4 separate regions of the Homo sapiens genome follow, and regions 1, 2 and 4 are each linked to region 3. The links come from fine-mapping of genetic effects on plasma protein levels. A gene starts in region 3. Each other region holds a variant in brackets. All regions are shown on one strand. Distances are from middle to middle.

What was found. PIP is the posterior inclusion probability: the model's chance that the variant is causal. The UK Biobank Pharma Proteomics Project read protein levels with antibody pairs (Olink). The fine-mapping took linkage between variants from a reference panel, not from the people measured, so its PIPs are less certain.
Region 1: its variant is fine-mapped to the plasma level of the BOC protein (UK Biobank, PIP above 0.99). The variant lies in the coding sequence of BOC. If it changes the protein, the assay may bind it differently, which can mimic a change of level.
Region 2: its variant is fine-mapped to the plasma level of the BOC protein (UK Biobank, PIP 0.99).
Region 4: its variant is fine-mapped to the plasma level of the BOC protein (UK Biobank, PIP above 0.99).

What each region holds. Positions count from the first base shown.
Region 1 is chr3:113,278,915-113,287,025 of GRCh38, reverse strand. It overlaps BOC (BOC cell adhesion associated, oncogene regulated), which reads right to left. Exons shown (of 20, transcript NM_001378074.1): 12 at 7,571-7,777; 13 at 7,021-7,202; 14 at 6,363-6,468; 15 at 5,873-5,995; 16 at 3,394-3,615; 17 at 2,459-2,691; 18 at 2,168-2,244; 19 at 1,461-1,654; 20 at 1-351. The coding sequence ends at 164. It overlaps CFAP44 (cilia and flagella associated protein 44), which reads left to right. Exons shown (of 35, transcript NM_001164496.2): 35 at 1-96. SPICE1-CFAP44 (SPICE1-CFAP44 readthrough (NMD candidate)) reads left to right here. Exons shown (of 52, transcript NR_183050.1): 52 at 1-96. Among named protein-coding and RNA genes, the nearest start is that of BOC, 71 kb to the right of the region's middle. The variant G/C (reference allele first, on the strand shown) is at 3,528.
Region 2 is chr3:113,251,081-113,257,181 of GRCh38, reverse strand. All of the region lies in intron 4 of BOC (BOC cell adhesion associated, oncogene regulated), which reads right to left. Among named protein-coding and RNA genes, the nearest start is that of BOC, 43 kb to the right of the region's middle. The variant C/T (reference allele first, on the strand shown) is at 5,940.
Region 3 is chr3:113,203,888-113,211,997 of GRCh38, reverse strand. BOC (BOC cell adhesion associated, oncogene regulated) reads right to left here and starts at 441. Exons shown (of 20, transcript NM_001378074.1): 1 at 1-441. It overlaps LOC124909486, which reads left to right. Exons shown (of 2, transcript XM_047449436.1): 2 at 1-4,601. The coding sequence ends at 443. RefSeq lists an enhancer at 1-80.
Region 4 is chr3:113,259,263-113,267,373 of GRCh38, reverse strand. The region is part of intron 4 of BOC (BOC cell adhesion associated, oncogene regulated); the gene reads right to left. LOC124909409 (a long non-coding RNA gene) reads left to right here. Exons shown (of 2, transcript XR_007096006.1): 1 at 1-1,282; 2 at 3,871-7,609. Among named protein-coding and RNA genes, the nearest start is that of BOC, 52 kb to the right of the region's middle. RefSeq lists an enhancer at 1,706-2,324. The variant C/A (reference allele first, on the strand shown) is at 3,468.

The sequences.
Region 1 (8,111 bases), 75 kb before region 3:
GTCTCTCCAGAATTATAAAACATATACATTTATTTACAAGTGCATAAATATATAAATATGGCTATAATAGAAAAATAAATACCAATTTTCTCTGTCTCTTTTTTCTTCTTTTTTTTTTTAAAAAAAAAACAATATATAGTCTTTCTGGGATATCAGCTTCTGCCTAAATTGTGAGAGGTGGTGTTTCAAAAGACACACGCACCAGTGGCCCCGGGGAGAGCTGCATTCCAGGTTCCTGTCCTACGTAGGCCCCTACGGGGTGCTGGGGACACCAGTCTCCTCCACTCACTTGGCAGGAGTCAGGACTGTCCACCTCTTCAACTGGCACAAGGCCCAAGCAGCATGGGGGCCCTGAGGGGAGAAAGAGTAGGAACCATTAAAATCCAGATTGACCGAGGAGCCAACACCCAGTGACACTGGGCCAATCTCTATCTGTGGTGGAGGTGGTTACACTGGCTCTGGAAAGGGGACAGAAACCTACAACCGAGACAAGGGCACTTCTGTTCCCTCCAAGGTCTCTCATCAAAACAGGGAGGGCCACTTGCCACCCATTTCCCACTCATGCTGGGACTGTAGAGACTCCCGCACTGAGCCCACACCACAGGAGCAGATGAAGTCAGTGCAGCCCGTGAAACGCAGAAGGAAGCCCTGCTCTTTCTATGTTTAGGCGGCTAGTCCACCCTTTGCTATGGCTTCTGGTTACAATCATCCCACTCACAATCCAGTCCCCCCAGATTGACACGGTCCAGTTTAAATGATGCTGGGTCGAGCTTTAGGACCCAGCATCTTTTAAATTTAATCTCCTAGAGACAGAGTCCAGGATCTGCCTATGAATGGGCACACACACAGAGAAGCTAAGAAACGTTAGTGGATACTTGGTGCCCTCACCAAGTATCCACTGATTTCTAAGGAGACTAGCATGGAGGAAGACAATGGGATGGGCTTAGCGTGAATGGCCCAAAACTCCTTGGAGAAAAAGTTCCGTGGAAGTACAAAGAGTTATGATGATGATGTTTGTAAGAATTTGGCTCCTTAATGATTGAGGCAACCTTATTCCTTAATTAAGAGACAAGCCTCAACAAAGCAAGGCATTTCAGAGTGATTAGAGAATGCCTCTTAGTGTGATGAGCAGCAAATGGAATTTGTGAATGGCCTTGAAATGCACAGACCAAAAAGGGCTTTTTTCTCTGAAATGGAGAAATAGCCTTTTTCTCAGAGGCTGAGGACCGCAGCTTATCATGTTGCAGTAGAACCCACTTGGACATCCCACAGACCTACTGGGCCTTCAGCAGTGAAGGAAAGTGGCCAGCCACCCTCGATGCCCCATCCCTCCCACATAAATGCTGTGGCTGGCTCCTTACCAAGCCCCACCTTTGAAGACTGTTACTACTGGCTTGTGGATGCCTACCTCATGTCACCCCCAGCCTGTTTAATTTCCCTGCCCTGCTCCTGGAACCAACCTGAGTGAAATGGAGGGTCCCACACTGCTTCCAGGACAGGACTGTCGGGGGCTCTCCTCACCCCTGACTGGCCCACAGCAGCAGGCTGCTCCTGGCGTTGGCAGCAGTCGTGATGGGGCTGCAGCAGCTGGTGAGTGGAGTCGTCGGGCAGTGTGTATAAGAAAGAGCCCTCGTCCGGGCTAGACTTGGGACCCCTGCAGTGCACAAGCCCAGATGGGGAGGTGGGGCTGGGCAGGGTGGGCCTGTCGCCCCATCCCCCTGCTGGCTGTCTCCCTGTCTGAGGGCATCAGAGCTGGTGAGAGCTCAGATGGGGCAAGGACTGCTCTCCCCTTTGAACATCAAGAGGTACCACACCATCATTCCCACTGATCATTCTAGTCCATTTCCATTTTACTCCATGTGGGAGAATGTGAAGTCAGGTGTCCAGGGGCCCATGGGCAAAGTCAGTTGTGGTGGGTGCTTCTGATCTGTCTAGTGACGGAGGATTCCGAGATGCCAAGCCATGCCCTCAGGCAGAAAGGGCATCGCAATTGCAAATGCAACAACTGCCTATTAGGGCAATGGTTCAGAGGAGCATGATTGTCAGTCACGGGGACCCCTGAGTACAGCACTACTGCTTGGCTCTCAGTGACAGGCCTTGGATTTGAGGAGCTAAAGGGAAAGTGAGGCTGTGGGGCTTGGGAGTGAAAGGGGAGAGGCCTGGTTACCTCGTGATCTGGTGACTTTGGGGGTCATATCCATTGCCAAGATGGGTCTGCCTCAGCAGGCTGCTGGTGTCACTCTGCTGCTCAAAAGGAAGAGTAATGAGACGGCCACGCCGGGGAGTCCAGGTAACTTTCCAGTCTTCACTCAACAACAGGAGCATCTGCTCCTGACTAAAGAAAGCCTGGCCCAGCAGCCCAGCCTGAGACCCTAGGAGGGAGGAGGCCCCCCAAGGCAGCCCAGCCACTCCCTCCTGGGTGTCCCATACCTGCCGCCCACACCCAAGAATGCGCTACCTGCTGAAGCTCGCCTGGGCAGTGCTGCTGGGGCTTCATGCCCGGGTAGCCCACTGCAGCCGAGGGGCAGCCCCTATTCATGTGGATCCCATTAGCACAGGCCCGTCCACTGATGCCACTGAGGTAGGGCTGTCCACTGGCCTGGTGGCCTGGGAGTCCTCCCAATGGCACCATAGTATACGGGCAGGAGGGTGGAAGGGCACTTCGAGGAAAACCCAGGTCTGTTGTATGTTCTGGAAGGACAGAAAAATAAAGGTGTGCTTAGGCCAAGGTAGCCCGGGATGGGTTGGAAAAGCCCCACAAGGATCTCAGGAGGCTCCTGGCCACAGAGGGTTGAAGGACGTAGGCAGGGAGTTGACAGTGCCCAAGCGATGGAGAACATTTTCTCCTAGAGTCTCCTTTGTGTCGCCCATTTCTACCTGACACCTAGACTCTTCTGCAGGGAGAAGGGTGGGGAGATACAGGGTCCAGGGCTTGGGGGCAGGAGGCGGTGAGTGAAAAGAAGAACAATATTTAGAGGAGGTAAGCTGACCAGATGTTTTGCCATCTGAAGCAGAAATTAGTGACTAAAAGTCAGATTCCAGGATAGAGGGGAAAGCTGAAGGCAGCTCCGCACCCAGGGAAGAGGCAGGATGGACTGTAAGTAGGAATGTGAGGTCAGAGGAGCAGCTTCGGACACTTCAGAAGATGGCACAACATAGGTCCCGAGCTCCAAAGGTGCAGAGAAGACAGCCCAACTTTCCCTCCTTCCTCCTCCCCAAGCCGAGGTCTGTGAGCTGGGGGAGGGGCCCAGTCGTTGGGTGTTCTCTGACCTCCGAGACCTTTGGGGGACTTGGGCTTGAGCTTTCCATGGACACAGACCTAGGCAGAGGCCTCCTTAGTGGAGCCCCCATTTCCCACCCAGGATCCTCCCACTGAAAGCGTCACTCACTCACTTTGCTTAGACCAGGCCCTCCACAAGCAGAAGGGGATGAAGGTGACGATGATGAGAACGATGGAGCCCAGGACGACCCCGACAATCAGATAGGGCAGGTCGCTGGAGCGAGCCACCATGGCCCCAGTGCCCACC[G/C]GCCGCTCTATGGTTTCAGGAAGGGGCGGCTGTGGTGGGGCCAGAGTTGGGGGTGGCAGTCGACCAGGCTGGCCAGAAGACTTCCGAGCTGTAATTGTGGACAAAACTCACTTCAGCATATGTTTCTTTGATATTTCCTTCACAACAAATAGAAAAAAAAATACCCCCATTCCATGGGTTTGGGAAATGGGGTCAGACTCACTAGATTGGGCCTCAAAATCTCTTATTTGAATGGTGTCCACACTCAGCATGAAATTGGAATCTAATGTGAAATCTGGTGTTGTGGCGGAGACCTGAGCCTTATATTTCAAAGCAGAGCGAGATGTCTGTGAGCCATGCACTAGAGTTGGACTGGGTCCTTCCGGCAGAAGCGGTGTAGTGCTTTTGGGAAGAACTGGTGAACTTTTGGAAGAAAATATTTAAAATGCAGGAGCCAGAAAAAGAATTGGGAATGGAAGAATTTACCGACACCCAAGAGCGTGCTACCTGCTGGTGGACTGAGACGTGAAGCACTAGGTATTAGCATGGATCACAGCAGGGGGACAGGTGTTCCCGGACTCACGAGGACACACAGTACATGTGAGATGCCAATTCAGAGGTGGAGTCAAGGCCATCAGCTCCTCACTTTAGCTTTGCTGTTAGGAGGTGCATCTGACCCTGCTGGCCCTCGTGGCCATCTTCTCCCCCGGCTTTCGGACTCTGTCCCCTAATGTCCCCCACCTCTCTGCTGCTCTGTATGCCTCTCCTTTCCTCTCTGTGCCGTCTGCCTCCACAGACACTGGGAGGCCTTCCTGGTTCCTCCCGTCTGTACTCTCTGTATATTCTCACCTAGTCCCGTGACTTCTACCTATATCCTAAAGAGCCGCAAACCAATCTCCCCACCCGGACCCCCTGCACGGGGCAGGAGCTCTGCTCCTTATCAAGACACTTCATTTCAATGTCTCCAAAGAGTCAAAGACTCAGTAAGCCTCCAAGTGGTTTTACCTTGTTCCTTTCTCATGAAATCTGTCTTCTTGCCGTTGCCATTTCAATAAGTGGCAACATCACCTGTGCAGTACTTCCAGCTGGAAACCTTGAAGTTTATTTTTAACTTCTTTCACTCTCTCCCAGCCCTAGCATGCAAGCTGACCCTGGTCCCGCCCACACCTCCTTAGAAAAGAGACTCAAACCCATCCCTTCTCTTTACCTTTACTTTAGAGCCCCAGTTCTCAACCCTCAGCCCATTCCCTGCACAGTCACCAGTGACCCATCTCAGCAGACAAATCCACTGACAGCCCTCCTCCACCTCACAGCCTCCAGTGGCTCCAGCTCTCCCTGGCTGCACCGGCTCATCTCACACCATCCTCAGTGGCCTCTTTCCTAGGCATTCACTCCCATAACCTCCTTCCCGGTGCCTGACACCCCAACCATCTGGAGCTATGTCCAGCCTTGTCCTCCAGGCCACTCCCTCCTCATCCTAGCCTAAGACTCGGTCCTTCCAGAAGACCAGTGTGAAGGCTTTATGAAGTCTCTTCCTCCCTCTGGGCACTCCCTGCACCAGGTGATCCAGGATTCTGGGCTGTGCATGTATCTGCCCTCCCTCTGGTGTGCATGATGGAAGAGGGCAGGGAGAGACACAGAGGCACTCAGGGAGGATCTGCTGAACAACTGAAAGCCAGTGAAGCAGGAGAGAGAATGCCATTGCCTTGATGAGAGAAAAATGTGTTGTTCTGTCTCTATTCCTATTCCTTTGTGATCTTCTCCTGATTATGTTCTTTGCAATACAACTGCTTTATCTCACTTTCAGTATCTGCAAAACGGAGATAATGCTATCTCCCCATCTGACCAATGTGCAAATATTAACAAGTTATTATGTGACTATGTTTAACATGTTTTAAGTGCAACAGAAAGGGGCTGGTCTTGTAGTTAAGACAATCCTGGCCCAAAGCATGCTCTACCCCTAACCGGCTGCATGGCCTTGGCTGCAGTATACAGCTTCCTCATGCCCACTTCCTTTCCCATCTCATGGGATTGTAGTTCAGTTAAATAAACCAACCCATGTAAGCACCAAATATCATTGCAGGAATAAAGTATTTATAGGAAGTTCCCAACTTAAGAATGAGGTCTATCCCCTGATTTCATGGATGAGTTAATTATCAAGTTCCTTGAAGGTGTCATCATGGTCTATTTAGTATTAGGCACAGACAAATGAGTAGAGAGTGAAACATGACCAAGTCTGAGGGTATTTGGAAAACAAAGAGTCTTCCTGGGAAAGAGGCCCAGCACCGCACAGGCACAGGGAATGGTGACTCTGCCTTCCCTCGCTGGAAACACCAAGACAGGAGAGAGAACCCAAAGAGCTTCACCTTTGGTCTCACAGATCATCACGTTGCTGAACTCGCTCTCCCCTCCTTCATTGAAGCACTGCATCTTAATGTCGTAGGAGGTCTCTGGCTGCAGGTGGCTGATGGAGTGCCAGTACTTGTCCCCTGGGAAACAGAGTCAGAGAATGGTGCATGGCAATGTGTATATGGTTTTCTTGATCCCAATCTCATAGTCAGACTCAGCTGGGGCAGTGTGTGGGGGAGGATGCCACTGACTGGCACAGGGGCGGCGTGTGGAGGAACGCTGGAGGAAATGTTCTAGGTGTCCACCCAGGTTGTCCCATCATCACATGGGTTCATGAAGTTGACAGCTTCAAGGGTATTATGAATGAGTCAATGACACGGAGCTTAGAGCTTCGTGTCACACCAGATGCAGGTTTATGCTTCACCAGATTTCACCAATACCTTGTCCCCCATGCCAGCGGAGGAAACTATATCACGCAGAAGCTATAAACACAGAACTGTGTCTCACCTTCCACCATATCCTTCTTGTAGTCACTATCATTGTCACTGTCTGTGGGTCGATAATAGATATAAAAGCCATGGATTGGGGTGTTGTTGTTACTTGCTGGGATGTACTATAGGGAATGGAGAAGAAACAAGTTGACAATGGGCAGAGAAAACATCATCAAAGCAAAACCACTGGTGTATGAAGGTTCTACCCCAGTCCAGAGTTTGAATTTCACTTGGGACCCCTGGCAAAGATTTCTAATGATATCCCTGAGGTTCTCTGAAAAATGTTGTAAAGATTACTCATTATTTTATTTAGCCTAGAGGTCCCTAAGCTTTTGAAGAGAAGAAACAAATTGCCATTTCTCCAAAGACTTCAATTGCTTCTGATCTCCCTGGACATGTGAGGGGCCCCTGTGGCTGAGAAGGGGCCCTGAACAGTTGTGTTGGGATCCCCTGTGGTGTCAGGGGAAGGGCAGGAAGGAGGGTGAGGTCTACCAGGTCAAGGCACCAGAATCAACAGGAGACCACTAGAGCAGCTCCAGCCACTAAGAGCCTCCCAAATTCCACTGATGAAGCTTTCAGGTGCCCTGTTCGGGGGAGTCTAATCCCCAGGCTCACAGGGAAGGGCATTTAGGGGAGGCCGTCTTCCACTGCAGTCCACGGCCAGGCCCGCTTACCATCCACTTGAGCATGATGGTGGTCTCATTGACCGCATCCGTGAAGGTGATATAAGGACCTGCCACGGGCCTCTCGTACACGCGACCGCTGTAGCCCGACACCACGTAGGGCCGAGAGGGGGCGCTGGGCTCGCTCTCCCCCAGCATGTTCAGAGCCCGGACTCGAAACTTGTAGGAGGTGCCTGGTGAGAGGGACACTCACTGAACTCAGGAGCTGGGAAATACCTTCTGATTCTCCCATGGCCTTTCAAGGCCCAGGACCTGGAGGGGTCTTCTGGGCAGCCCTTCCCCAAAGCAAGTTCTCAAAGGCCTCACAAGAACACCCGCCACTGTCAGAGCTGAGCTGCAGGGGAGATGGCTCTGGATGCTCTTCTGGAGGGAGGCAGAAGGCTTTAGGACTGTGGTAAACACCACAGACAGCAACATGGAGGCATGCTGGTGGGTGGGGGCCTGGGCCGAGAGAAGGGGATCCCAGGCTCGTCATCCTCCTCCAGGCGGAAAGGGGCAGCTGGGGGATCAGGCCAAGGCCACGGTGTGGCCAGGCCCCTACCTTTCTCTAGGCCCGTGATCTCCACGGACAGCCGCGATGGGGGGATGGCGCTGGTGGCCAGAATCCAGTCTCCCACTTTCTTTAGCTTCTTGTACTCCACACGGAAGGACTGGATTGGGAACCCACCATTCCCACGGGGAATCCAGGTCACGTACACTGAGGTCTCGGAGGCCGTGGAGATGGTGGGCCTGTCGGGAGCTTCTGGGGCTGGGAAAGACCGTATCCAGTGAGGAAGGAAGCAGGGTGAGATGACGTGAGGAAGGAAGCAGGGTGAGATGACGCTGTATGCCCACTGGGCCTGGCCTGCTCCTGACGGGCCCGCTCCTCCCCACAGCCCTCCACCCACTGGTGTTCACATCAGACCTCCCCACGGCTGCCTGGGCTTTGAGCTAAGACCCCTTATGCTATCCTTCTGCAAAGCCAGAGTGTGGAGGCCCAAGGACCACAGCTCTGGCCTCTGCTGCTCTCTGGATGCACCCAGTGAGCAATCCCAGCATCAATGCCAGCCTTTTATTTAAAAAGCTCCAAACTACATTTCCTC
Region 2 (6,101 bases), 46 kb before region 3:
GATTCTGGGAGCTGGACTTAGGGAGAATCTAATTTCTTCACATTGTCTCCAAAGAGACATATTCCAAAAGAACTCCAGGCAGGTGGTGTATTTCAGGTGGACAGTAGGGGACTGTGATGGTTAATTTCATGTGTCAACTTTGCTAGACAATCTTTTACTTTGAGAAAATAATTACCCTCCCTAGTGGGGATAGGCCTCATTTGATCATTGAGGGTATTAATAGCAAAGACATGTTTTCCAGAGAAGAACACAACACAGAAAATATGCCTGAGTTTCCTGCTTTTACCCTAAGACTGCAATATCAATTCTTACCTGAATCTACAGCCTGCATGAGCTAACTCTTTAAAATAAATCTTTGTATAATATATAATTATACATATACAAAATTAAATATATTATACATATATATATACACACACACACACATATATGTATTATTGGTTCTGCTTCTCTGGAGAACCCTAATACAGAGATAAAGGAAGCTAGAAATATTTTAAGAAAGAAATCGCTACAATGGTCCTTAATGGACTATGGACTATTCTAGTTCACAGTCAGAACCTAGGTGACCTTAGTGAAGTGTGTGATGGGAATTAGCGGTTAGGGGAGCTGAGCAAAGAGACATAGCTTCTGTTTGTAAGATTCACCATGCTGAAGGCCAGGGTCAGCCCAGCCTGTCAGTGCAAAACAACAGCTGTCTGTATACGGCAGCAGTTGAGTGGGCAGCAGTGAACCCACAGGAGCATCAGTGAGCAGCTCTGCGGGCTACACTGACAATGCACCATGACACCGTGGCTGCTCCTGAAGGCGGCTGGGGTGGGAATCTGAGTTAGAGAGCACATGTATATAAGGAACTAAGAAAGTCACAGGAATGGGTTAGTTCTCTCTTTATAAGAAGCCAGCCCTCTATTGGTTCTGGTTATGACTGGAAGCTCTGCCACCCTCTGGACTGTCTTCCTAAGGGTCACTCCCAGAATGGAACTGGGCAGTACAGGGCTGGACACGGGCTTTAGAGCCTCCAGAAAGGAGACACTCCAGAAATGTTTGACAACCACATGGGCGAACAAATAAAGCCTGGGATTTCTAAAATGCTCTCAAATACTAATATTATACATTCTCCCATTTATCCTCAAAAAACCCATGAGACTGGTGATGTAATTACTGTGTTCATTTCACAGCTGTGGCAGTCAGTCTAAAGACCAAGTGATTTGCTCAAAGTCATGGAACACTTAAATGGCAGAGCTAAGGCTTAAACCCAGAATTTAAAAATTTTTTTTAGCTTCTTGTTTTTTCCATTATACCAGTTTGGCCCTTCATTTTATTCATGGGTTAAATTAAATTATGGTAACAAAGGGCCCCTGGTCACTTTGGACATTTTCTCAAAGTCAGAGATTCATGAGGTTGAGTGGCGAGGGGGACTCCTTCCTTTCTTGTCAGCCACCTTGCCTGCTGATCTCTGATGCCAGAGACAGGACCATTCAGGAGTATATGCCTGGCCTTGGCGCTAGGAGGCCTTAAGGAGCGGTGACCGATCTGTTCTCAATTATACCGGCTGCAGCTTAAGACTTCACATTAACTTGAGGACTAAAATTCCCAAGTTTAGAATTATAGGTAGCTACCTGGTTACCACCTGTTTTATTTCCAGCTACCAGTGGGACCTAGGGATGATGGGAGAATTGGGAGAATAAAATTATCAAAAAATCTTAAAAGTTAAAAATAAACAATTATTAATGGTTGACTGTTAGAGGTAAGGGATTGAGAACAGCTTTTCCACTGCCAGCTCTGATGAGTCGGTTGTGACTCCTTGCCATACTGTGTTGAGAACAGGCCTGAGGTGGAACTCAGGGTCCAGTAAGAAGGAGTGGAGTGCTCCCTGGCAGGGTCTGCTGTTGGTTCAGGAGCAGACTGGGAACAGCTGAGCTGTGTAGAGCGGTTGGCTGCCTGGTGTGAGGCTTGTGAAAAGGGAAAGGGAAGTGAAAGGAAGGAGTTCAAAGTTAAAAGCATTTCAAAAACCAAGAATTAGACAAGATGATCTGAAGCAGGGCATTGGCAGCAAGAAAGTTTTTCTTTTTTTTTTAAAGTTTAGGTTAAATAGGAAATAAAAAACTCTTCAGAGGACAGCGAGATGGGCACCTCCACAGAGCATGCAGCAGCCATTACCCACATGGCCAGGACAACCTGGGGTGGAGGGAGGGAGAGAGTGCAGGTGAGACTCTTCAGTTGATTTGACCTCTGGCTCCATTTTACCGAAAATCAAAAGATGATGTCACCTGGTCAGGGTGAAGTACAAGTGGACCCTCCAGCTTCCAACACTGGACCAGAAAATTATTCTGCTAGAGGCCTCCCCTCCACCCCTGAATCCTCAAGCCTGGTCCTAAGCCCCATGACCTATAGCCCCATGACCCTTCTAAAGGGTGGATGCAGGAGGTGGCATCTTGCCAGGTAGGCCAGACAGCAACTGCTTTGTGCGAGGATGAACATGGGACAGCGTGGAGAAGAGGCCAGAGGAAAAGGAAGCCTACCATGCTGAGTGTGTGTGGGTGTGCATGCGTGTGCACCGGCACGCCGCTGCCCAGTCTTTCCTCTAAATGCAGACCGTGCCTTCGGTAATCCCGTCTACCACTTGGCCTCCCTCATACATCAGCCAACCAGCAAAACACAGCCCCTATTCTGCTCAGGAATGTGCTTTCAGAAACTTAATCTACTGCTGCGTCTGGGCCAGATCCCCTAATGGCATTAACCCAAAGACAGCACCCCTTTCACTTGCCCCCACCCACCTTCCCGCCACCTCGTTGCTGCCTCCTCCAAGCTTTGCAGTTCCACTCCACCAACTCCCTCTTTTTCATGACACAGCCCCCCATGCCTGCTCTCTCAACTTTCAGCACTTCTTCTTTCTAGTCAGGCCCAAACATTTTGCCTTCTGATTCATGTCTAAATGACAAGCCAATAGTTCTTGGCTTTCAAATAAGCCCAGCTCGGCTTCTGCACAAGCCCCTTCTTCTCTTACTGTGCCTTCTTGGGTTGCAACCAAACACTTCCCTTTGTCCTTTCTGCCAACCACAGATCCCCTCAAGCACCAGAGGAAGAAGCAGCCAGGAATATTTTTAAAATGAAGGCTAATAAATTGTCTCTCCTCACACAGATACACCTTGAAGCAGAAGGAAGGCTCCAAGATAAATCTTCCACTCTCCAACTCTCCCTTTCCCAAACAATAAAAGGTTCAGCCTGGCTCCTAATTAGGCCAAATGAATGGTTATGGTCTTGAGTCTCTACAGACTTGTGCTGCCCATTTGCAGATGAAACCTCCCTGTTGAATGAGCAGTGCTGCTCTTTAAGGGCACACGCATTGCTAAAAGGCGCATCTCATTTGCAATAATCAACAACTGGAAAGGCCCTAATTGTCCAGCAACAGGAAAAGGGTAGAAGGTAGATGTTCTAGGACCACTAGTAATTACGATCATAAGTACTGGTGGGGGCTGGGAGGGTGGACTAACTAGGAAGGGGCATGAGGGGACATTGGGGATGGTTACATGGGTGGATGTACATGAAAAATGTTATCAGTTGTTCACTTAAGATTAGTACACTTTGTGTACTTTACTGTATGCATTTTATTTATTTGTTTTTTGGAGACAGGGTCTCCAAAAAAGCCACATCTCATTTGTAAGAGACTGGCTCACCCCAGCCTTGCCTCCTGGGCTCAAGCAGTCCTCCCGCCTCCGAGACAGCTAGCAATACAAGTGCACGCCACCACGCCTGGCTATTTTTTTAAAAAAAATTTTTGTTCCTAGGCTGGTCTCAAAATCCCAACCTCAAATGATCCTCCTGCTTCAGACTCCCAAAGTGCTGGGATTACAGGTGTAAGCCATATTGTAATAATTATCTCTGATCTCTATGTGCCAGACCTGGTATGCATTTTATACTCAATAAAAAAGTTAACATGGTCATATGGCCAATGGAGAATGCTTATCATACAACATCAAGAGAGAGAAAAGAACTTGTATATTTGTTGTATCATTACAACTTAAAAATATGAGCAGGGATAAAGACTGGAAGGGTATACTCCAAAATGATGGTGGTGGTTATATGAAGATAGCAGGCTTATGAGAGATTATTTTATATATATCCTAAACATTCTATAATGCAATTATAATGTGGAAATATCAAAGTGGAGGTGGGAACTGTACAATGATAGGAAACGTAGTTCTGACCTCAGCCCTTCTTGACGTGATGAGATGACCCCTCTGCACCCTCTACCTTCAACACCCAAGCCTCATAGCAGCCCCCGCCCAACAAGCACAGCTGGAAGGGAGGGCCCTCTAGCCACCCACGGCCTGCCTCCCTCCCTGAGCACTCACAGGCTGCTCCCCGAGGCCAGGCACTCAGATTCCATGGGTGACCCTTCTGCCACAAAGAGGAGTGGCTCCACTGTGAGGGGGGCTCCAAGATGCAGCCCAGTGTCAGCCTGGCTCCTCAGGGAGACAGCTGAGGACACACTCTGCCTTCCCTCTGAGAAAAGGGCAGGCCTTGCTTGACTGTCCCAAGAAAAGAGGAATCCTGGCAGCCTCCATTCCACTGACCCACAGAGTGAAGCTCCTCCAGGGATCTGGGGACTGGAGGGCACGTAGGGGCTTTCCTCCATTCTGTTACTGCTTCTCCATCCCTCCCTACTCTCCTCCCAGGACTCAAGCTTCACCCACCCCAAGGACCCCAGCTTTCTTGGATAGAGGGGCATTTCAAAAGTTCGCTGCCTTAGGTAAGCCCCATGATGTAGCACCGCCAACCTCCTGGAAGCACGTCATCCACAAGGGTGATGATGATGATGATGATGGTGACATGGATGCCCAAAGCAGGGCTTTCAGGGATAACGGGGTGCTGCTGAGTCATGAGGGAACAAGCCCTGGAAATCTTCTCAAAGTTTAAATCCACATACCATTAAAGTCTCAACAAGTTTCCCTATTTTCTACACCTCAGGCGCCAGGAAAGGGGCCAAATTGGAGGCAGTTCTTTAAGCTTCCTGGCCACAGGCTCAGCATATAAGAATGGCTGTCAGGGGTGCTCTCCAGCCTTCAGTGGTGTATTGAATCCATCAAGTCTCACGTGCCCATACATACAATGAGTAGAAAATCAGATAGTGTATGTGTTGCGCCTGGGACACAGCACACCAAGTGGCAGTCACATGCAAAGGTAGGACGTCTGTTTACTCACTTCCATCTAGCCTCATACAATGGGTCCTCATAAGGTAGAATAAGTATAATGGCAACTAGAAACACCTGTCTTGGTAAGGCTCCTCTTCCAGCTATGACTATGTCAAGTCACTTGGCCTTTACTTTGCTCTGTTGAATCTTTATAATACACCCTCAAGTAATTTTGTAAAAACTATGACTTTCACAAGCATAAAAGAAATAAGAGCGGTTATTAGGACCATCCGTCAGTGAGCACATGGAAATGGAATTTACCAGAATTATTCAGTTGGGAGGGACCTTAGAAGCCATTTGGCCCTTGGTTTCCACATGTTGGTCTGAGGACCTATGTTCTTTGTCACATAATAGGAAAAAATAGAGGTCAGAAATAACACAATTTCTATATCACAAATAGAATGTCTACAGACATAATGATTTTAATAAACTATCCTATACTGAGTGTAACAACATGAATAAAAGAATGGCAAAACCAGAAAAAAAAAAGGTAGTGTGAAGTCTTCTCTTGGCATTTTCCTTGGTCCAAACTGTCACCTCATCTCTTCCTTGTTTCTTTTCTCTGTATCCCTTTATCCCTTTGCCACACAGTTTCCTTTTCATTATGTTCTAATATTTATAATCCAGGCCTTCGGACTATGCTTGCCCCTCACAGAGAGACAGGAGGCCAAGTCTGGGCTGGGTGGGCTCTGTCCAGACTACACGTGGCCCTGCCCATGTCTCTTGGTGTCCTGTCTCTCCCTGCTC[C/T]GACTGTAACTGTGGTGAGAATGGAGGGAGGGGACTGGAAGGTGTGTGAGCAGTTGGGACAGTGCACCTACAGCCACAGGATGACCAAGTAGGAAGGCACGGCACGGCCCTGCTCTGGGGCCCACGGAACAGTTCTGCCATGTCAAGTTCTGCCATGCACTG
Region 3 (8,110 bases):
TGGGAAGGGCGAGCCGGGGCCCGGGGGCCAGCGTGGTGGGCGCGAGGGAGCCACACAGCGCCGCGCCGCACGGACACACAACACGCTCGGTGACACCGGGGACACACAACACGGGCGAGCGGCCGCGGCTGGAGCAACAAAGGAGCCGAGGACCGAGAAGTTGCGGGCCGGAGAGGGAGGGCGCGTGCGGGCGTGTTGTGGCTGTGGCGGGCGTGAGGGTGTGCGCGCCGTGTGTGCGCGTGTGTGTCTTTTCTGTGTGTGTTTGTGTGTCTCTGTGTGTGTGTCTGTGCGCGCGCGCGGCGGCTGACACCGGCGGGCCGGGGCTCAGGGTCCCCGCGGCAGAAAGCGGCGGCCGCGGGGGCGGCAGCAGGAGGACAACGCAGGGGACGCCGCGCCCAGCGCACCCGGTCCCTCCATATGGAAGAAGCTTTTTGGATGACTGAACTCGCAAACAATTCCTTCTTTTGCTTCTCCTGCCTAGGAGCCTCCCATTACCGTGCGAGGAGGAGGAGGAGGAGGGAGTGGAGGAGGCTGGGAGGAGGGGGAGGAGCAAAATGGAGCAAAGAAAAAGTCTTGGAAAGGAAGCTGGAAAAAGTCCCCCAAACTCTAGGGCAGTTTTCCCGTTAACACCCACTTTTTGCTGTGCCTCAGACCCGCGCTCTCCTCCAACTTCTTTTGCTTTCCCATACCAAAAGCACCATCTTCTCCCTTTTCCCCGAACCCAGGGGGCTCCCCTGAAGCCTTCACTTTCTCTTTAGCTTCACCTCGCACCCTTGCTCTTCCATGTACAATCCTTCCCTCCTTTCGCCTAGTCTCTTCCAAGACTTTCCTGACACCCACCTCTCAATGGTCTTCTTCTTCTGCAAGACAAACTGTTGGATAAATCATTAAAAGCAAACTCATCAGAAAATGGGACAGCGGCGGTGGAGAAAATGATAAGGAAACCAATCTCAGGGAAGCCTTAACGCAGCCTCCCCCGACCCCCTCGGTCGGTTGGGGAGGGTTTGCCGCGTCGTCCATTGACAGCGCCCTGACCTCCATTCATCATCCCAGGATGGAGCCAGGGAGGAATGGGGAGGGAGAGCTGGGGCTGGGGTTGGGGGCATGGGTTGGGGGTGCTAGTGGCCACGGAAAAGTTAGTTACCTATGCGTGTGTATGTGTACGCGCACGCGCGCGTGTGTGTTGGTCAGAAAACTTTCAGAGCTGTGGTTCTCAAACTTGATCTGCAGCAGGACTCCCTGGAAGGCTTGCTAAATCCCTTTGCTGGGCCCCACCTCCAGAGTTTCTGATTCAGTAGGTGGACCTGGGAATTTGCATTTCAAATAGGTTCCCAGGTGATGCTGATGCTGCAGGTCAGGGGCCACGTTTTAAAAACTACCTTTCCAGGGCAGTGAGAAGGCAAATGTTGAGTTGGTGGCAAATTGGATTCCCTTCTTATTTTTTAGGAATGAAGCACAGGTTGTGAGCGGTCATCCATTCCGTATCTTCATTGCAGCTGAGAAAACCAAGTCCCAGCAGGGCTAAGCCATTTGTTTAAAGTGAACTGGGAGTTTGTGCCAAGCTGGTGAGGAAGCTGTCCTGGAAATAAGACAGCCAGGCTAGTAGTAGGGTGAATGGGGGTGCTGCCTTCCCTGTGTGGCTGGACAGCTGCACTGGGAGTCAGGAAGCCACTGTGACTTTGGAAAGTCACTTAACTTTTCTGGGCCTCTGGGGGTTTTGTGTGTGTGTGTGTGTGTGTGTGTGTGTGTGTGTGTGTGTGTGTGTGTGTTTGTTTGTTTGTTTGTTTTTTGACAGAGTCTCACTCTGTCGCCCAGGCTAGAGTGTAGTGGTGCAATCTCGGCTCACTGCAAAGTCTGCCTCCTGAATTCGAGAGATTCTCCAGTGTCAGCCTCCCAAGCAGCTGGGATTACAAGCACCTGCCACCATGCGCGGCTAATTTTTGTATTTTTAGTAGAGACGGAGTTTCACCATGTTGTCCAGGCTGGTCTTGAACACCTAGCCTCAAGTGATCTGCCCACCTTGGCCTCCCAAAGTGCTAAAATTACAGGCGTGAGCCACCTCACCCGGCCCTGTTTTGTTTTTTATTAACTTGTTTCTTGTCAGTAAACATACATACTTTACACTGAGTATAGGACTCTAATTGAATCTGAACCAAAAGACCTTTACAAAGGAAACATAAATGTATTTTATTCCATATTTTGCACTATTTTTTCTCCGGTATTTAGTCATTCAGGCAGAAGCCAATTTCCTTTTTGATTTATCGAGTACTTTCAGCTCTGTGCCTGGATTCTTAGGCATGTTCCTCTGGCAAAATGGATCTGGAGGATGATGCATTTTCAGCAAGAAGGTGAAAAGGACTCTGAACTCTCTCTGTGCATTATCCACCTACATTTCCTTTTCCTACTTAATCATCCTAATTTTCCTTCCCTTTTAATCTCTAACAATCTCCCCCAACATTCTCAAAGACCTATTTTTCTTTCCAGTCATTGACTATATTAGCTTCCACTTTCTTTTGTCCTCCTTCCAAGGCACAATTCTGGACTACAAGGCCTGGGGTCCACCCTGGGTACAGAACTTTTAATTCCCCCAAGGGAATGGGTCAACCAGCTTCCTCTGCAGTGATAACACTCCTTCTCCCCAGGGACCCAAGCAGCGTATCCAGCCTTCTGTTTTTCAAAGATGATTCCAAGTACCGCTCAATGAGAACGTGATGCATGAAGGTCTCAGATTCATTCTTTTATATTCCTGTATATACTATTCGTTGCTTGACATCTCAAAGATATCTTCTACCCCTTCTGTCATCTTTCTCCTAGGACTCTCCATTCTCTTACTCTGGTCTTTGGGTCCACACAGCCCTAGGCTCTGAGTTAAGCATCAGAACACAACAGAACACAAAGAATGTAACAGTCCCTACCAGCACCATTTAGTCAGGAGAATGACACACTGCCTTGTTCCTTCATGCATGCAGGCTGCTCACCTTTCTTTCTTTCCTTTTTTTTTTAAGATGGAGTCTGGCTCTCTCACCCAGGCTGGAGTGCGGTGGCATGATCTCAGCTCACTGCAACCTCCACCTCCCCGATTCAAGCGATTCTCCCTGCCTCAGCCTCCCGTGTAGCTGGGATTACAGGTGCCTGCCACCACGCCAGGCTAATTTTTTTTTTTTAAGTAGAGACGGGGTTTCACCATGTTGGACAGGCTGGTCTCGAACTCCTGACCTCAGGTGATCAGCCCGCCTCAGCCTCCCAAAGTGCTGGGGTTACAGGCATGAGCCACTGCTCCCGGCCTGCTGCTCACCTTTCTTATAGTTTAGGCAGAATGCAGATCACAGCTTAATAAAGAGGACTTAATTCTGCTGGCGGCATCAAGCACACTGTTGGTACCTCAGATATGTTTATTGTTTTTATTGCTCTTTGTATTAATGTGATTGTGTTTATTACTACTAGTCCTGTAAGAACAACGTATCTGAATTTTCTCCCCACTCCATTTTGCCTGGAGGGTATTTCTTGCCTAATTCCCTCCTCCCCTTTCAATTAGTTTCTCTATCTTAACCCACCCCAACCCATTCCAGCATCTCTAGCCATTTCAAAACAGTTAGGTGGAGTCTGGATCTTGTAAGGTGCTTTTTGCTACTGTCCGTTCTGTTGATGGTGATTTACCTCTAGCACCTTGCTTTCTTGGAAATGTTATGGGCCTCCACCAAGAAGGAAGCATTTGGTATGGAAGTGATCATCACATTAATTTAAATGCTTGGTCGGGGGAAGGAGTGGGGAGGTGAGTAGGGATTGTAGGTCTATATAAGTCACTATGTTGCTAGGCTGTGCAGAATAAACTGGAAGGAATTCAGTGAATGACATGAAAAGACGTGGTTTCCTCTCAGTGTGCTGTAGATACTCTACCTGTATCATATAAACAGGGATCTCTTTGACTGTGAAAGATATCTGGAGAGGATTATGCTGAGAAAATTATTAAGATGTAGACAAGAAAGAAGGACTTGATGATGTTTTCCTCTGTTTTAATATAAATCTGCTTTCCTGATTATAAAATATGTGCACTGACAAAAATTTAGAAAATGTAGAAAAACACATAAAAGAAGAAAATCAACTTAAAGTTACTACCCAGGGATAACATTGTTATTAACATAGTGGAGTGTTTTTTCTAGTCATTTTTCTTTCTTGTTTTTGTTTCTCATCAATACAAATAAACACGTTATCGACACTGAGTATATGATTCTAATTGAATCAGAATTGAAAGACATTTAAAGGGAAACATAATTGGGGTGAGTTTATTCAATATTTTATACAATTTTTAATGCATCTGGTAATTCAGGCAGGAGCCAGCTTCTTCATTGATTTATCTGGTACTTTCATATTTTACAAATTTGGGTTCATTGTACATACAGGTTATCATGCTTTTAAATTTAACATTTTAATGATTATTTTCCCCATATGTAATCTTCAAAATTTGACTTAACTGCTGTGTACTATCCCATCAAAGAGAGAGATTGTTATTTATTCAACCATTCTTCTATTGTTACATATTTAGATCGTTTCCATTTTTATTATCATCCTGTATTGCAGTTGACTAAACATCTAGCTATAAATCTTTTTGTTCTGATTATTTCCTAAGGGTAAATTCATGTAAGTAGGAGTTTGGGATCAATGGATAGGATATAACATTTTAAATGCTTTTAGTTGGTATTACAAAATTGTCCTCCAGTGGTTCCAATGTACATTTCCATCTCTCAGATTATTTTAATTAAAAACAACAATGAGATCATCAAACACAAGGTCCCAAGTGAAGACTTGATTGAATTATCTAGTCTGAATGATTACACTGAACAATAAAGAAAACAACTGCCAAATATTCACTTTAGTGGAAACAACACTCCAATGGGAAGAGCTGGGCACTAATTGCTTACCCTATGAACTGCATCATATTTATGATTTTATTTAACCTTTTCAACAAGCCTCTGAGAAATAAGCTAATGTTTATTGAGCACCTTCCTCTCCCAGTTTCTCTCCTGGATTCTGTGTGTACCTTCCATCTTGAATCCCCATAATGACCTTGTGCTATATAGGTGCAATTATCTCCATTTTATAGATAAGGAAAATTAAATAACATGCCTGAGATCCCCAACAACTAAATGGTGGTAAGAATTCCAAACCCAAGATTTTTCCAGTGAAACACACTACTTCACAACTATTTCATGAATTGCAGGCTACTTCTTGCAGTAAAAAAAAACTGTTTAGAAAATGCCCAAATTTTGTCTAGCCATTAAGAAGTATTTTATGGGCTTTCCAAGGAGTGTTTTTCTTTTTTCGAAAGAGACATTCAAGTGCATTCCAAGAACTAAGGTAACTTACTAATTGTAACTAATGTAAGAGTCTAAGGATATTATATACAGGAAGAGAATGGAGTTCTGATGTATGGGTTAAGATTAAAAATGACATACCGGCCAGGTGCGGTGACTCACGCCTGTAACCCCAGCACTTTGGGAGGCTGAGGGGGGCGGATCACGAGGTCAGGAGTTTTGAGACCAGCCTGACCAACATGGTGAAACCCCATCTCTACTAAAAATGCAAAAATTAGCCAGGCGTGGTGGCGCATGCCTATAATCCCTGCTACTCAGGAGGCTGAGGCAGAAGAGTCGCTTGAACCCGGGAGGCGGGAGGTTGCAGTGGGTTGAGATCGTGCCACTGCACTCCAGCCTGGGCAATAGAGCGAGACTCCATCTCAAAAACAAAAAAAAAACAAATAAACGAGATACCAAAATTCACAGTTTTAACAATATTAGTAAATTGGCTTTTGTACACATAACTATTCTCAAAAGCTTATATTTGGATAAAGACATTTTATCTTGATAAATGATACTGGAAATGAGATATTCATGAACCCAACTTTCTGCTTTAAAATTCAAGCTGTTGAGTGTATAAAGTGTCTATTTATTAAGGCAATATCTCAGTACAATTTCAAGATGCATAACATAATCCATTAATTTATAATTAGGAAAATTAGCCCTCATTTGCTCTTGACTGGACCATTAACTAGTTATCTGAGTTGGCTTACCGTTCTATGCTGGGTATTGCAAGGGCTGCTGGAGAAGAAATATGCCCAGTTGCTCTAAAATATTTGTTGACTGAAGGAAGAATGATGAATGAAAGTATAAGATTGACCTATGCAACAATTAGTAGAAACAATGCAAGACAGCGTATAATTAAACCCTAAATTGCATGGTTCAGGCAGAACTACAGGTGAGCCTGGTATGATGCCATCTATTCCTTATACAAGTTGAACTGGCTGGGACTGACTTCTCTAGCCCCAGGCTGTCAACTCAGGCATTCCTACTGGCTATATGTTCCGTTGACTTTTAGGAATTAATCACCAGATCCCCACAAGGCTCCCTATGGACAAGTGTACCCCAGGGGGAGAATGATATTTTATTTATTTATTTAGAGACAGGGTCTCACTCTGTCTTCCAGGCTGGAGTGCAGTGGTGTGATCTTGGCTCACTGCAACCTCTGCCTCAGCCACCTGAGTAGCTGGGATTACAGGCGCACACCACCATGCCCAGTTGATTTTTTTTTTTTTTTTGACAGTGTCTTGCTCTGTCACCCAGGCTGGAGTGCAGTTGTGTGATCTCGGCTCACTGCAAGCTCCGCCTCCCGGTTCACGCCATTCTCCTGCCTCAGCCTCTGGAGTAGCTGGGACTACAGGTGCCTGCTACCAGGCCGGCTAATTTTTTGTATTTTTAGTAGAGACAGTGTTTCTCCAAGTTGGCCTGGCTGGTCTCGAACTCCTGGGCTCAACTGGTCCACCTGCCTCGTCCTCCGAAAGTGCTAGGACTACAGGCGTGAGCCATTGTGCTTGGCCGAGGATGAGATTTTTAAAAAAAGAATATTGTGGCATCAAGACAAACCTGGGTTTGAATCCAGTCTTAAATAAGCTGCATGAGCTTAGACAAATTAATTACATCCCTAAACCCTAGTTTCTGTGAATATTGGAAATAATATATATGTACTATTTCTCTCTCTATATATACACATATATATGTATACACATATATATACACATACACATATATATATGTGTATATATGTATATATAAACCCTTGGTAGGCACTCAATAAATGGAGGGAAAATTAGTAAAAGTTTGAGTGAGAGGTGAAGCTGGGTTAGAGAAATGAAAAATAGAATAGTCCAAGGCCACTTCTGTGTGCTTGATTTTGCAAAGCCCTAGACAAATAGAATCTATTGACACTGAATTCCACGTGAGACCACTTTTCCAAGATATCAGATTCTCTAAAGCAAGCACAGCCCCCTTTCGTCCTCCATGACACCCCCACCTTCCTCATCTCCCGCCATCTGTTCTTCCCCCATCCCTTCACTTGTTAGGCTGAGACAGTTGGATTCTGGTGCTGCCCAGACTCCAGCTGTTTGACATTGTGCAGTGACGGCAGCAAAGAGGGCAGGGGCGCAAGATTCCAGATGAAAGCAAAAACTCAAAGAGAACTGGATCTCAGAGCTTTGATACTAAACTCAGTGGATAACAGCCTCCGTTAAATTTGTTCAGTCAGCCATTTAAGGGGGAAGAAGTTTCTCACACATCTTGTAAGGGTTTTTAGCAATGAGATGCTTCCATGGAGGGGAATCCATATTCTGGGGACTGAGCTGGGCAGAATCTAATGCCAAAGCTGCCACTGCAAGCTTTGAGGCAGGTATTATGCCATCTTGTTTTGTTCTACATGTGTTATTTTCTTTCTCCTTCATAAGATACCTGCGATTCTCTGAGACTTTTGGCCACAGCATCAGGAAACCTAACTATGCCTGACCCTACTCCACCTTACCCCACTTCTTCAAGTCCTCCACTCACAAGCAGAATTTAACAGGGAGGCCCAAGCTGCTCTGCAGTTCTGGTCATGGAGGGAAGGTTGACCGGCCTCCCTGGACAGTGGTTGGAAGCTCTCTGTGGACCTGCAGGCAGAGCCATGAGGAAGGGAGAGGAATTGACAAGAATATAGATTCTGGGGCTGGTGGTGTTGTAGAAGCCTCCCTGCCACCTCTCTCATTGAGAATCAGAAAACAGCTGTATATTCTTTGCCTTTTATTTGT
Region 4 (8,111 bases), 55 kb before region 3:
AATAAAAGCAGAATGTTTCCCAAACAATGCAAGAGTCCAAACAACAAATCTCTCTTTGTATGAGACAAATCACTCATGTTGCTGAGTAAAACAGGGACCACTTGCACAACAAAACTGCATGCATTCCAAGCTGGAAATCTGGTTTTCAGGATTATAGCTGAATTTAAGAGGAGAAATAAAACTAATGGAGTATAAGACAGATGGAAATATTTTACCCAGACACTCTCTTCTTAAAGGTACTCAGAAAGCCCTGAAGGCACCTTCTCCGAATACTGGCCACACCAAATTCTGCTCAGCTCCCGGGACTGACAGCATTGGGACTGACTGCAATTTCACTGCAAGACTGCACCTGCCTCTGCTGTTGTTTCCAGTGGAGACCCAGAGAGGGCTGGAATCAGGTTTCTCACAGAAGACAAGAGATAATGACCAAAAACAAACTGGTGTCACCCTAGGAGTGCCTGGTGATTAAGGTACTCAGTGAGGTCAGGAGGCTTCCCACGTAATGGAACTTCCCAGCAACTCTTAGTCAATTCAAGCCAACACAGGGGAGGAAGCCCTGTTGTTTCTGTGAAAGGATTGATGTCCCTTTGATTACAATATTAGACTATGAACTCTTTAGGGGCGTGGACCGAGTTTTGTTCCTGTCTGTGTCCCCTGAACCTAACCCAGGTCCTGGCCCAAGTACACACTTGGCAAGTGTTGAATGAATAAATGAATGAATGTTAATGAATGAACGAATGAATATCTTGGAAGCTGAGCCCCACGAGTTAGGTACAAGATGCCCATTATGCTGCCTAGAAACTCATAGTTGAACTCATAAATTCATAGTTGAAGTTGGTCTACATTTTGAACAAACAGACAAGAGCCTAGCATAACAAATGTTCTGTGAACATTATATCTAAGTGTGGCCAATGGAAGCTATTTTGCAAATACAATGTTTCTTGAGACGTTATGTGGGATCTGAAGAAAGAAGTGAAATGGGTCTAATAAATGTGCTGTAAGAAATACATGCTATTCAAGGAGTGATGTGTTAAAAACAGTGACAGGATGGATATTCCATTCTCCATGATGTGCTTATTTCACACTGCATGCCTGTATCAAAACATCTCATGTACCTGATAAATATACACACATACTATGTACCCACACACACACACAAAACTTAACAAAAAACAGAGATTGGCTGTCTGATTCCTTTCTATTGCCCCATTTCACTTTCCAGGCTGAACAAGCATGATGCCTGCGGGTCAAGGCGAGATCTCTCATAGATTCCTTCCTGTGGGTAAGTGTAGGGCCTCCTGGGCTTTTAAATAATGATTTCAAAATTATTTAATGTTTTGTGTGTGATATCTGAGCCTAACTAAACGATAAATTCCTGGTGAGAAGCCTATTAATTTTTCACTCTTCACCCCAACCCCAAGTTCTATTGCATAGTACTGAGGATACAGCAAATGCTTTCTAAATCCTTGCTAAATAAATACAGTTTGGAAGGCTGAGCCCAAGGCCAGCTTGATGGGTGTGCAACCTGCCTCTGCACTTGATGGGGTAACACCCAGTTTAATGCTCTGCTTTCATCATCTGAAAATTCTTAATAATGCTTCAACAAGGGACCCTACATTTTCATTTTGCATTTGGTCCCACAAATTATTTAGCCCAGTCCTGGCTGAGCCTCTCAGCCAAGATAGCTAATGAGTTTTCTCTCAGAGAAGAGGAAGGTTTGGACTATGGGAAAGGAATTGCTTGAGCTCAACATGTTCTAGCTAAACATCGGTAACTTTGTTTTCTGAAAGCAATTCACTTAAAAAATGCAAAGGCCTTAATCCTCCTTCAGGCCAGTGCGCCCTGTACCTGCCAAGTCAGGAGGCTCCCCACAAAGCGAGCTGTGAATGATTGTGAGCTGTGAGTGATTGTGAGCTCAGGGGCATCTGGAAAATTCCTCAGGCGCTGTGAAGCACTCTCCTCCATGGTCGAATAAGTCCCAAACTACTCCACCAAGAGGTTTCTTTTTTTTTTTTCCTCCTCCTTTTCTTCACCTCATTCCAAGGAAATTTGCCTTAAGCAAAGAATATACTTAAAGCTAGCAGATCATTTTGCAAGAAAGATGTAAGGAACTGAAAGGAGTTTGGCACCAGGATGCCATCTCCATCTTCATGGCCCCAGGCTCCTGCCCATTGTAATTGAGGGCTTATCCAGGCACGGAGGGAGCATGCACTCTGCCAGGCACCCACCTCAGCAACCCAGTGGTAGAAAACACTGTCTCTTTTAATCCCCTCTTGGCTCCTGCTGCACCCTCTGACAGCTGCTCAGTTGGAGACAGAAGGCTGTGCAGTGGGGGAGCATGAAGCTGGGCACTGGTCAGCCATGCGGCCAGACAGCCCCTCTGTTCTGATGCCAACATGTGCACAACAGCCTGTGCAGGCAGGACCGAGGGCACCCCAGCTGGACATCCAGCTCCCCACAAGGGGCGACTGGCAGGCGAGCCTTCCTGGCTTCAAAACAAATAAGCAGCAGTTCGGTCCTTGGCCCTGTCCCTCCTACCCTCTATCCCCCCTCCCCCCGTGCCTCCTAAGCTTAAGCCTTAGCTTAAACACTCCCAATTTGGCTGCTTGAGTAAAACTTGAGTTTCACTAAGGGATCAAAGGCAGAATAATGAAGTGATGAATGATCTGAAAATCAGAGGACCCCTTTCTCTAGTGTTTTTGGACAGGAAGGGGGCCAGGGAGGGGTGGGGAGTTCATGATCAATAAGAGCCTAACCAGCCATCAGATGGGGCAGATGCAGAGAGGAGCTCTAGCTGGCGCATATGAAGGAAACCAGCCTGTTCCCAGGCCCCTTTGTCTGCAAAGCTGGTTTCCTGGCCGAGTCCCTAGGCTGCTCAGTGTGCTTCACTGGAAATAAGGGACAGGCCCTTCAATTACAAATAGGGTTAGCAGGCCTCCGCTGCAGAAAGATGGATCAGGTTTCATGGGGAAATGGTTTGACAGGACACCTGCCCTTGCCTGTTGGCTGGTGTGTTTGAGAAATCCATTAGAGGAATGTTTTTGCAGCTTTAATCCTCTTACCTTCCCTCCCCTCGCACCCTTCTTTTGCATCCTCTCTTTGTGCATTTTCCAGCTACTTCATTAACTTGTCCGCATTAATCAAACGCTAGTAGACCCACTTTTGTTTCTCAGCTCCCAACAGGTCAGAAGTCCTGGTCTTTGGGGCCATCTCTGAGTTTACTGACCTTATTTACTTGTCACAGAGCTTTGTGATTTCTGAGAAAGCCCATGATATTTTAGGCTCCATATAGAACCCGGCCCAGTTCCTTCCTTCTGGGAGCTCAGTTTCCAAAGGGAATACGTACACTCTGATACATCACTTCTGTAGGCTGTCTGAACACAGAGGCTACAGGGATGTGTTCAGACACACATCATGTGATGTACTCTGTGTTCTCTTCACATTCAAAGGGCACATCAGGCACAGAC[C/A]CTTTTGGCTATGGGAAAAACAGAAAGCAAATTAGACTGTCAAAGGTACATAGATGTGGCTGCCATCAGCAGATCACATGTGAAACCGCAAATTGGCACATTTTATCTTGAATGTCTCTTGAATTTCTTTCTCACCACCTTCTAGTCTCTATCTTTCCTTTATTAATAAAAGGCTTGGCAGAGCTATGAATTAAATTACAGTATTTGGTGTATGTTCATGCATTCTCATAACACAAATTGTCAAATATTAATTGTAAGCTTATCCCCCAATTTTCATGGACTTTACGTGTCCAACTACAGGATGTGTTGGGTCTCAGTTAAATGCCCCAGGTGTAATCCATAAACCTATCAATCACTTCCAAGGGAGTTATTCATTCAATCTTCTCCTGCATTCTCCTTTAAGCTGCAAATTGAAGTTCGATTCTGTTTGAAGTAAGAAGAGAAGTAAGACGCCACCATCCGCTGGATGCTTCATGGAGTTACCAATATCCCCATATCCATGAGCTCTGCTGAATGCTTAAAGAAACTTTGGCCTTTTACCCCTGCAGGTACTTCTCATGCACAGTCCTGTCCTACCCTCCTGCCTGTTCCTGGGGATCACAGGACAAGCCTGCATTCCTCTACAGAGGTCTGGATGGGATCCATTAGGTCACGGGGCACCGCATGGGGCTCATGTGGCAATGCTGCCAGGATGACTTAGCAGCCTCAGGGCCACTGGCAGGTTTCTGGACTGATGGATAATTCTATTCCCCAACTGTCACAACCTCCAAGCCTCAACTTGTCCCTGTGGCAGCTTGCTGCATCTGTGGCTAATGCTACAAGGCACAAAGGATTCTGCTCTACTGGAGCACTACTCAGTGGCATGCTGATCCTTTGGTCCTTCCCTGCACCTCAGTCCCTTTTTGAGAGACACCCGAGGTGCAGGAGAAGTAAAGTCACTAAGAGTTTTCTCTGGTTGAGCTTCTGGCTCATGGCTATCAGACAGACTTGGCTGTAGAGTCTGAGAAGACAAAGGGTCCCTGACACTCCTCACTATGTTGCCCCTGGACAATATGGGGGCTCTCCTGTGTCCCAAACTGCTTCATTGATGGACAAAAAGTCCCAACACAATTCTCAACCCCCAAGTCACTTGAGGGACCATAGCTTGGCATGACCCCAAGGTTATTCCTCTGAAATAAAATGATCTGCAAGTGAAACGCCATGGCAGTTTTCTGCTGAGGATGTGGGACAACTACAGAAACAGAAGGCTGGAGCCTCATTGTGCTCTCATGAGGTCAGAAAGCCTGGCACCTGGTGAGTGGTTGGGGTTTACTGTGGGCTGGGCAGGCATCTCAGAAGCCATGCATTTGGGGTAGTGACTAAGTATTTTAGCCCTGGCACATAGACCCCCTGCAGCCCACAAAGCGGGACAAAACCAGCATTTGGTAAAATACCATCCCTCTGGTCATCATTGAGTCATTCATTTAGCAAGCCAGGTGCTGCAGAATTGTCTATTATGCCAAGCACTGCAGAAAATACAAAGAAGAAAAGACATAGCTCCTAACCACAGGGAGCTTTCAATCACATAGACAAGGCAGGACACAATAATTCACAAGCGTGGTGTTCTCCAGCGTAGTCCTCACCACCTCCACCAGCACTCCAGCCTAAGTCAACACTGTAATCTACAGAGACACTTAGAAACACAGTTGGCAGAGTGAGTACTGCTCCTCCCTTTGCAGGCAGGGAGACTGGATAAATATGTTTGCTGTCTTTGGGATTTTTTTCTGCCTGTCCAATTGCACAAATAATTTTGGCTCCCAAGCTCTCTCCTGACAACCATGGAAACATGACATGAAATTTCTCAAACACACTTTCTGATGAAAGCAAGGCATGCTCTTTTTTATTTAAAGAAAACAGTTTCCATGGGGAGGAAGAAGAAGAATTAAAAAAAAAAACAAACCTTTGTAGATGCCAAGCACATTAGTTGTTAAATCTTGTTTCTTTCTTTTCCTTTCAGTTGAGGTGGGATTTACACCCAGATTTGAGCAGTGGAAGAAAGCTGGGATTGGGGAAGAGATGAAAGAGACTGGGGGATGAGGGCTGAAAATCAAAGTCAAGACAGGAGAGAGAAATCTGGGGGTGGGCAGGAGGGGAAAGCAGGCCAGAAGGGAGGAGTGGGAGAGGAAGAAGGAGAGAGACTAAAAAGAACCTATTTTGCAATGTCATTAAATGATTTGCAATGAATTGGCCTGAGGCTTCAGGAATTTCTTGGCTTGAACCAATTAAAAATACTTCATTTTTAAAAAAGACATAAGAGAACGAGAAATGCGATTAATCCTCAAAGACAAGTCAAGGATGGAGCCATGTCTCCACTGGGTCTGGCAGCCAGATGAACACAGATGTCTGGTCTGTAGACCATCTCATCTACCCGACTTCAGGGCCGCTCTGAGGTAGGGCTGGTTAGCAGAACTGGGGAGTTTCTTTTGGACTAGATGAAGGAATGAAATAGTTAGAAAAAAAATATACTGAAGAAAGAGCAGAAGGAAAAAAAGATTTACTTGCCAGCAACCCACATCACACATATTTCTCTGATCAACCAAATACAAACTATAAACTTAGCAGTGGGAAAATTAATGTGAGTCCTGGTGGTCTGGACTCATCAGAGCCAGAGCTGGATCCTGGCACAGGCTTTGGAAGGGCTGGCAGCCTGTGCAAGAAGAGAGGGAGGAGAGAAAGCGGAGGCTGAGGAGCTGAGAGAAAGAATGGGGATGAGCACTTTGGTGTGGCTGTGATGAACAGAACTCCAGGTGGGAGAGACGGGGCAGTGGGGCCTGCTTTTTCTTCCCACACACCTGGAAACTGCATACTCCCATCAGCCTCGGTGGCACCAATCCCATCCACCCACTCCAAAATGCCCCTTGAGGTATATGTGAGGACAGTGGTCCCCAACCTTTTTGGCATCAGGGACGGGTTTCATGGAAGACAATTTTTCCATGGACCATGGGTGGGGAGACTGGGGGGGATGGTTTTGGGATAAAACTGTTCCACCTCAAATCAATAGACATTAGTTAGATTCTCATAAGGGGCGCACAACCTCCTAAATCCCTCGCATGCACAGTTCACAGTAGGGTTCACCCTCTAATGGTGAACCCTATTCTATTGAATGGTGAAAACCTGTTCTGTTCTGTTCTGTTCTGTTCTGTTCTTTCTGTTCTGTTCTGTTCTGTTCTGTTCTGTTCTGTTCTGTTCTGTTCTGTTCTATTCTATTCTAATAGAATCTAATGCCACTGCTGATCTGACAGGAGGTGGTGTTCAGATGGTAATGCTTGCTGGTCCACCGCTCACCTCCTGCTGTGTGACCCTGTTCCTAACAGGCCATGCACCACCATGGAACGGTACTGGTCTGCTGCCTGGGGGTTGGGGACCCCTGTGTTAGGTCATGGAGCCAAATTCACTGGCATCTCCCTGAGGTTCCAGAATTTCCTCCAAACATCTCAGTTTCTTTCCAATGTTGTTTTATGCTTCTGACATTCATCAATTTTTCTAAGTCTTTCTTGAATCCATTTGTATCTTCAACCTCTTTGTATCCTGAGTCCCTGCTTTATCCTTTCTTATATACTTCTTGAAAACTTTAAATATATCAGAATTTGAAAAGGAAATTCAGAAATTGTTAATTTACCCTGTGTATGCCCTTTTTCATCTTCTAGACCTCAAACATGTTTTATCTGGGAGTCTTCCTCTTTCATGACATTCACAGAAGGCCTATGGTGTGCCAGGCCCCGTGGACAGCACTGTGGACACAGATGCATAATAACAGTTCCTACCCTCCAGATAGAGAGGCAAGAAAGGGCTGTGGAAGCAAACCCAAGGTACTAAGGAAGCCGGGAAGAGAACCTACTCTAGACTTGGAAGTTGAAGGGGTCAAGAAACATTCCTAGAGAAGATACCTGAGTCTTGAAAACTGAGAAGGAATTAGTAACCCAACAGAGGTGGGAACTTTCTGAGGACGGAGATGGAGAGGAAGATGCTGCCAGCTGAGGGACCACCATTCTGAAAGCTAGGAGAAAGTGCGCGATGGAAAGTGGGCCTGAGGGAAAGGCTGTAAGCACCTCACTATTAATCACAATTCTCCCTATAGGAAAATAAATGCTGTTTCTACTTCAGCAAGTTTTTTTCCTTTTGTTTACATTTTTTCTCATTATGAAGTGATCATCCTTTAATTTGGATGTGAACACTACGTCTATTTGCAGGACAGACTCACTGTTCTATAGAGCTCAAGATTATTACCAGACTCCAAAAATGGCTGAAAGTCTAAAAACAAAGTCAAAGTAGAAATTGCTCAACTTTTCCACACACACACGAGAAACAGGGGATGCTGAGGTGTGAAGCTGTTTTTAAAAAATGAGGGAACCAAGGACTCATTTGCTCTCTTGGTTTTCTTTTTTGTTCTAAAGAAAGCATCTTGCACCATGCTCCTTAAAGGAGTCCAGTGATTTCAAGCCGGCAAATCAATCTTTCCCTTGGCTTCTGGTGCAAAAGGCTCCTCAAACTGTGTTTTGGCTCACTGAATCAACATACTACACAGCCCTTCCCTTTTCTCTTAGCTTAGAAAATGAACCCAGTATTGTATTTAAGCATTTGGCTGTGAGTGCAAAGAATGAATTG